3 separate regions of the Homo sapiens genome follow, and regions 2 and 3 are each linked to region 1. The links come from fine-mapping of genetic effects on gene expression. A gene starts in region 1. Each other region holds a variant in brackets. All regions are shown on one strand. Distances are from middle to middle. Region 1 holds the start of CD300LF (CD300 molecule like family member f). Region 2 has its middle 11 kb from the start of RAB37-AS1. Region 3 holds the start of CD300H (CD300H molecule (gene/pseudogene)).

Evidence for each region.
Region 2: its variant is fine-mapped to the expression of CD300LF in whole blood (TOPMed, PIP above 0.99). The same link has a PIP of 0.9 or more in blood mononuclear cells and monocytes.
Region 3: its variant is fine-mapped to the expression of CD300LF in whole blood (TOPMed, PIP above 0.99).

Annotation. Positions count from the first base shown.
Region 1 is chr17:74,711,334-74,714,095 of GRCh38, reverse strand. It overlaps CD300LF (CD300 molecule like family member f), which reads left to right and starts at 1,173. Exons shown (of 7, transcript NM_139018.5): 1 at 1,173-1,272. The coding sequence starts at 1,230. It also overlaps a transcript of RAB37 not described here.
Region 2 is chr17:74,687,146-74,689,907 of GRCh38, reverse strand. It overlaps a transcript of RAB37 not described here. Among named protein-coding and RNA genes, the nearest start is that of RAB37-AS1, 11 kb to the right of the region's middle. The variant G/C (reference allele first, on the strand shown) is at 1,022.
Region 3 is chr17:74,566,144-74,568,905 of GRCh38, reverse strand. CD300H (CD300H molecule (gene/pseudogene)) reads left to right here and starts at 1,397. Exons shown (of 4, transcript NM_001405511.1): 1 at 1,397-1,557. RefSeq lists an enhancer at 1-50. The variant C/T (reference allele first, on the strand shown) is at 1,359.

The sequences.
Region 1 (2,762 bases):
GGGATTACAGGTGAATGCTACCACGCCCAGCTAATTTTTGTATTTTTTAGTAGAGATGGGGTTTCACCATTTTGGCCAGGCCGGTCTCTAACTCCTGACCTGGAGTGATCTGCCTACCTTGGCCTCCCAAAGTGTTGGGATTACAGGCATGAGCCACCATGCCTGACTTTTTTTTTTTTTTTTTTTTTTTTTTTTTGTGGAGATGAAGCCTTGCCATGTTGCCCAGGCTGGTCTTGAACTCCTGGCCTCAAGTGATCTTCCTGCCTCAGCCTCCTAAAGTGCTGAGATTACAGGTGTGAGCCACCGTACCTGGCCTTGTAGTCTGGGGTTGGATACCCAATCTCCTCATAGCTGCCTTCCAACCTTTGGTCTGGAATCTCTCCTCTGGCTTTCTGACTTTGGCCACAAGTGCCCCTCAATCCTCTTGAACTTCTGGCCTTCTGGGCTCCCAAGCATCTGGCTACACCTGAAGCTCCAGGTTTAGGACATCGTGTCTATCAGCCGTGGCTCTCCAGGACCCCTCTGGTGGAGCCGCGTGCCCCTGCCCCCAGCCAACCCACCAGGTTTGGAGGATTGGATAAGGGCTGGCCAGACCCAGTGGATCTGTCTGCAGGTTTCCACATGACAGAGGAGCCACGAAGTTCTCTTTTTAGAGAACCCACGGTGGCTGTGTACAGAGAGGTACTTCTCAGAAGCTGATGATTCCTGTGACCCCTTGCATTGTCAACTGCCTCGAAATTTCACCCTTTCCACCTCCTTCCTCTTTTTTTTTTTTTTTTTGTTTTTGTTTGAGACAGAGTCTTGTTCTGTCACCCAGGCTGGAGTGCAAGTGGCACGATCTCGGCTCACTACAACCTCCGCCTACTAGGTTCAAGCGATTCTTCTGTCTCAGCCTCCTGAGTAGCTGGGACTACAGGTGTGCGCCACCACGCCTGGCTAATTTTTGTATTTCTAGTAGAGACGGGGTTTCACTATGTTGGCCAGGCTGATCTTGAACTCCTGATCTCGTGATCCGCCCGCCTTGGCCTCCCAAAGTGCCAGGATTACAGGCCTGAGCCACGGTGCCCAACCAACCACCTCCTTCCTCTTTTAGTCTCTTTCACCCATGGGAAGTGACTGAAGGAGGAAGTTCAAGGGCGAGAGTGAGTACCAGCAGAAGGCTGGGAGTCTGTAGTTTGTTCCTGCTGCCAGGCTCCACTGAGGGGAACGGGGACCTGTCTGAAGAGAAGATGCCCCTGCTGACACTCTACCTGCTCCTCTTCTGGCTCTCAGGTGAGCGGGCCTGGGTCTGTCTTCTTGGGGAAGCTTAGCAAGCAGGAGGAGGTGGCTGAGAGAGGGAAGAAGGGACCCGGCCAGAAGGTGTCCTTAATGGCATGAGCCTTGTGCGTTTCATCCACATACCCACCATTCACCTAGCATTTCCGTTGCCAAGGCAGGAATACAGGGCATGACCTTCATAATGAAGCCAGTGCAAGGCAGAATTCCTGACCCCCAGGGGCTGATCATGTGAAATGGACAGACTGTAGGCCCCGCCGGCCAGGGAAAAGCAGAGGAGGAACATGGGCTGCTCAGGAGAGCAGGCGACTGCCTGATCCTGGACTGGGTGATCTGTCACCTGCGTGGAGGTGTTCTGAGCAAGGGCAGGCGTCAGGGAAGAGGTGAGGCTGGAGGACTTTGAAAGGAGGGAAGAGGGAGTTTGCTGGGCAGAGAGGGAGTGGTGGTTCTAGGCATTTGGGGCAGAAGGAAATAGTAGAAGTTGCTGAGGGACGGAAAGGTCAAGAGGAGATAAGACTGGCAGGGACGTAGAGGAAAGGAGGGACTGAGATGTGGGCAGAGCCAGAGGGCAGGAGACACCTTAAGTTGGTGCATACAATTTTTATTAAAAATGAAGGGAGGCCAGGGAAAGAGGCTCATTCCTGTAATCCCAGCACTTTGGGAGGCTGATTGCTTGAGCTCAGGGATTCGAGACCAGCTTGGGTAACATGTGGAAACCCTGTCTCTACAAAAAGTACAAAAATTAGCCAGGTATGGTGGCATGTGCCTATGGTCCCAGCTACTTGGGAGGCTGGAGGCTGAGGCATGAGGATCACTTGAGCCCAGGAGTTGGAGGCTGCAGTGACCTGTAATCACACTACTGCCTTCCAGCATGGGTGACAGAGCGAGACTCTGTTTCAAAAAAAAAAAAAAAAGAAAAAAGAAAAAAGAAAAAAAAAGAAAGAAAACAAAAAAATAATTTCAAGAAGTGAGAAGTGATAAGTACTGTGAGGAAAACAGAACAAGATGATATGTTACAGTGGGACCCAGGTAGGGGGATGCTGTAAGTCAGGTGGGCTGAAACAACCCCCCTGAAGAGGGTCCCAGATGCCTGTCCGAGCCGAGACCTAGGAAAAGGATCAGACACAGGATCGGGACCAGCTTTCCAGGCACAGGGAACAGTAGATACGAGGGCTCTTGTGTAGGAATGAGCTTGGACTGGGCACGTCTGAGGAAGAGGGAGGTCAGCACGGCTTTGCCTCATGCTTCAGAAGATCCTGGTGGGACAGATTGGAGAAAAGGTCTTGGGGAAGAAAGTGACTTGTCCAGGACTGCTAGGCTGGTACAGGAAGAGCAGGGAGTGGCTCATGGACACTTGGCCCCGAGTTTCAGCATGTAAGTGGAGAAGGCAGACTTTGGGTGAGATGTTATGAAATGCATTGGCACAGTGAGACCAGGACAGGTATGGCTGCTTTTTTTCTGACACCTGGAAATGAGAGAATTTGGTA
Region 2 (2,762 bases), 24 kb after region 1:
ATATCATTGGCTTTCAGAAGATAGTACTGTTTGAGAGTAGTTGAGGGAGAAAAAAAAACTACTGAGTTGGCAACCTCCAAAATCCATGAGTAAGATAAATTTGCACTCAAGTGAGGTGAAAGGCTACCTTTGCTTGACATCTTGAAAAATAGAGCTCAAAGCTGCTTAGCCTTGGAAAGGGGAGACTGCTGGAATCGGTTGATTTCATGTACCAATAAATTTTTTAGATTGGCAAGGACAGATACAGTGATCAGCCTTTTATTCTACCAAGTAGGCACATTTTTTTTAGCTTTTCAGTTTTCTTTGCCAAAGTCAAATATGTCTGAACCAAGTAGGTAAATTCTTATTCAATTTCACAGGAATTGGTAATTGGTCAGTTCATTGAAAAAGTTTGTTAAACCCGGAACTCATAAAAGAGATATACTGTATTTTTTCTTTTCTTTCTTTCTTTTTTCTTTTTTTTTCCAGACAGAGTCTTGCTCTGTCACCCGGGCTGGAGTGCAGTGGCGCAATCTTGGCTCACCACAACCTCTGCCTCCCGACTTCAAGCGATTCTCTTGCCTCGGCCTCCCAAGTAGCTGGGATTACAGGCATGTGCCACCATGCCTGGCTAATTTTTGTATTTTTAGTAGAAACGGGGCTTCACCATGTTGGTCAGGCTGGTCTTGAACTTCTGACCTCAGGTGATCTGCCCACCTCGACCTCCCAAAGTGCTGGGATTACAGGTGTCAGCTACCACACTCGCCCACACCTGGTTAATTTTGTATTTTTAGTAGAGACAGGGTTTCACCATGTTGGCCAGGCTGGTCTTGAACTGACTTCAAGTAATCCATCTGCCTCAGCCTTCCAAAGTGCTGAGATTACGGGTTTGAGCCACTGCGCCAAGGCTATTTTTCCTCTACATGTTTTATTTTGACTTAAAATATCTAAATGTGTAGTTATTAGCAAGTATTTTGATGTAGACCTAAAGCCTTTGCTTTGCTTACAAGTCTGCTGAAAAGTGGGGCCCATTGCCTTTCCT[G/C]AAGCACAAACCACACACACATGATCCTGGGGTTTCAGTTCCAGTTTCTTTAACATGAAGCAAGAAATTCTAGAAACTTATGAAGCCACCTGATTGCAAAATCTTTCTTCATTTTTATGCATTTCTTTCCGATATTTTACAGTTCTCTCATTCATTCCTAATTTGATAGCATTTTAAAAAGTGACAGGCTTTTATAGTGTCTTTCCAAAGCAGTTTAGTTTTTGTAGAGATAACCGTTCTCTTTTTTTTTACACTCTTATTTTATTGGTCAATAGTCTTTCTGTTTAAATTCCTTTGTATTTTCTTTTTCTTTTCTTTTCTTTTTTTTTTTTTTGAGGTGCAGTCTTTCTCTGTCACCCAGGCTGGAGTGCCGTGGCGTGATCTCAGCTCACTGCAACCTCAGCCTCCCAGGTTCAAGCAATTCTCCTGCCTCAGCCTCCCAAGTAGCTGGGATTACAGGCACCTGCCACCATGCCTGGCTAATTTTTTTGTATTTTTTAGTAGAGACAGGGTTTCACCATGTTGGCCAGGCTGGTCTCGAACTCCTGACCTCAGGTAATCCCCCTGCCTTGGCCTCCCAAAGTGCTGGGATTACAGACGTGAGCCACCACGCCCGGCCAATTCCTTTGTTTACAGGTGAATTGATTCAAGTACATCATTCTAGTTAACACGTATGACCAGCATAAGCAAGTATGGGCCCAAATGCATTCTTGTTAACCAGGTACCACAACTGTGAGAGCAGAGAAGAGCCTGCCAGCTGTGAGCACTCTGTGCCTCAGGCTTAGTCAGTGTGCTCCAGTAAGAGACTGAAGGGTATTGGTTGACCTAATAAGTTGGTTAAGTGAGGGGTTGCTTAACAAAGTTTCTATTCAACAATCCATTGTCACCATAATTTCATAAAAGAAAGGAGCTTTGAGCACCCCAAGTCTCAGGATAATAGACAGTATTTCCTAAGAAAGGACAGTTGGTAACTTTATGCCAACATCTACTGATGTGTGTGTATCGTTTCCTACACATCAGTTGGTACTTGTCAGGGGCTGGTACTTAGGTATGGACTGAGAATTGGCAGCCATGGATCCGGTTCACACTGTTCTCCAGGCATGGACCCGCTCCATCACATCTCCGCTGGTGTAGTGAGGCTTCCCCTGAGGGCCTCTAGTGACCCTCTTTGTTTGGAGGCTGATGAAGGTTGTCACTAATGAGAGCTGTGGAGCTCTCCAGTAGTTGTGAAAGGGACCCTTGAAGCAATCAGATTCCCCCTGCCCCAGCACAAGCCCCTTCCCCAAAGTAGTCCACTGTGACCATATCCTCACATGGCTCTGTCCTGAGGGTCTGCAACTCTTGCATCAAGAAAGGGTGACTTGGCTGGGTGTGGTGGCTCACGCCTGTAATCCCAGCACTTTGGGAGGCCGAGGCAGGTGGATCACCTGAGGTCAGGAGTTTGAGACCAGCTTGGCCAACATGGTGAAACCCCATCTCTATTAAAAATACAAAAATTAGCTGGGTGTGGTGGCGGGCCCCTGTAATCCCAGCTACTTGGGAGGCCGAGAAAGGAGAATTGCTTGAACCTGGGAGATGGAGGTTGCAGTGAGCCAAGATCGTGCCATTGCACTCCAGCCTGGGAGATAGAGCAAGACTCCATCTCAAATAAATAAATAAATAAATAAATAAAAATAAAATAAATAAATAAAATAAACTGAATAAATAAAAAGAAAAGGTGACTGACTCATTTGTTTTTCTG
Region 3 (2,762 bases), 150 kb after region 1:
ACTCACATCACACACACCACACACACATTACACACACCCTACCCCACATACTGTACATATACACCACATGTACACACATCTCACACCACACACGTGCACACACATACACACTACACACACACCACCTGTGCACACACACCACACACACATGCAAACACACACACTACATGCACCCCACCCCACACATCACACACATACACCACATGTACACACATACACACACTACACACATCCCACCCACACCACACACACCACTCACACCACACACACGACCCCAAACACCACACACATACACACACACTACACACATCTCACACACACCACTCACACCACACATACACACACACTACACACACACCATCCCACACACCATGCACATACATCACATGTACCTACATACACACATACCACACATACTACACACACTACCCACACCACACACACTACACATATATCCCTCATACCACACCCATATACACACATGTGAACACACACAGAAATATGAGGACTCCACATGCAGCAAAAAATGAACAAGCAGGAAACACATTTACTGAAACACCAAGGAGGAGACATTTGATAACAGAATGCCAGGAATTTGGAGTCTCCTAGTTCCAGAAATCTAAGTCCCTGAGTGAGGCCTTCTGAAGCTGTGCTTGCATTTATAAATCCTCCACAGCCATTCTGTGTATATCAGGCACACTTCTGGCCAGGTTCCCCCGAGTTAGCTCTTGATATATTGAAACTCTTATATGTGGTCATCTTGGGCGACAGGAAGAGCCACACAGGTCAAAAGCAAGGCTTATAGATGGTCCACCAAGCTCTGCGTGGTGCCAGGTCTGTGGAAACAGTCAGGCACGTGGCCAAGACAGGGACCTCTGGGGTCTGCTGAGGTCAGAGCAAGAGTGAGGGGTTAAGAGGTCAGAGCCTCTGAGGTTGCACCCAGCCTATCTGTACCACCAAGGATCAGAGATAGACCAGCGGGCATCGTGGGTGTGCCCCTACCCTGTGCAGTCTCGCAGGCCCGGCTCTTAGAAGGGTCCCACGTTTCATGCTTGGCTGTCACCATCTTGAAATTCTTAATAATTTTGGAAACCTAGGTTTGATTTTACACTGGGCTCTGCAAATAGCCAGTCTCATCCATCCAGTGAAGGCTGAGCCATACCCTGGGGCGGCTCATGCTGGCCACAGAAAACTGGCCATTCACAGAGGGGAGGACCTGCCCAGAAAATCCAGATGGCAGCTGGCCCAGTCTCACTGGTCCTGGGCCATGCTGTGATTTGGAGAAGGGCAGGCCTGTCAGCTGTGGGTAATGGGAGGGACATTGTCTTTACTGGGAACAGAAAGAGGAACAGCAAATG[C/T]AAACATGTTTTATTAGGAAGAACTTCAGCAAGTTCTCAAAATTGTTTCACCTGACCACATAGTGCCCCATGGCCCCAGCTTCCTCCATACTCTCACCAGCTCTGAGAACCAAACCCAGAAGAGGCCAGAGAAGGAAACGAGAGATGTGAGAAGGAAAAAGAGCCTCAGACCCTGCTGCCACAAGGGACTTCCATGCTGGTGAGATGACCCAGAGGGCTGGGGCTGCCATGCTGCCTTCAGCTCTGCTCCTTCTCTGTGTCCCAGATGAGCAGGGCAGGTCCTGGGTGCAGGGAGGTCTGCTCTGGCGGGTCAGGGTGAGGCAGGCATGAGAAAAGGCTGGCGAGGGGCAAGAGGAAGAAATGATATCAAGAAAGAGGGAGTGAGGTGTGCATAGAAGCTTCTCAAATCTCCTTATCGGGATAGGGTGGGGATTAAACGGTAAACTGCTTCCCACACAGTAAGCCCTAAGTAGATTTGGCAACTTTAATCATTATTACCGTCATTATTAAGATCAGGAATGCCACCACGATCCATCAGAGAGAAGGGGGAATAGGGGACAGAAAACCAGTACTTACTAGGCTAATCACTGTAATACATATCTTGTTTCCCACTATCTCATTTAATTCTTATTGCAATCCTGATGAAAACAAGAGACCGAAGCTCGCTCTTAGAGGTGCAAATAATTTAGATTAAACAGTTTATAAAAGGCACAGTCAAGGTCCAAACCTAAATACTTTTATTTCCAAGATCATTGCTCCTTCTCTAATTCAATGTCAATGTCTGCTGCGCCTCCTTGTAAAGCTTCACTTACATATCTGGAGGCATATGCTGCATCCCCACGTGGGAACCCTGGGTGTCCCCACAGGTCTGGGCTGGCCCCAGGGCTGCTACTTAATGGGCCCCCAGAAGGGTGAGACAGCTGGGAACCTGTGGTCAGCCCTGGTCCGAGAGTTTCCGTAAATGATGGTGGAGGGAGAAAGTCAGTTTCTTTGCAAGGCTGGGTAGGCGGGAAGCTCCGTAAAAGATGGTGGGGGTGGAGGTGGAGGAGGCTGCCCATGTTGGCTCAGAGTCAGGGTCTGGACTGAATATCCAAGGAGAGGGAGGCTCTGTGGTGGGATTCAGTGTGTGCCCCACAATGTTTTTGCTCCTTGTGGAATTAGCCCCAAATCATTAAGAGAGAAGTTTAAGGACCTGAAAGAGCAGGCTAACAGCGCCCCCAGAGCCTGAGCTGAGAGCAGCAGCGATTTCAGGAGAGGACTGGGTGTGCCCACCCCTTCCTTGCTCCTAAGCCTGTGCCTGGCAGGCAGTTAGCTCCCTGGGAAAGCTCGTGGACCTCAACACTGTGGACATTTGGGGCTGCGTTATTCTGTGTGTTGGGGGCTGTCCTGTGCATTGTAAGATGT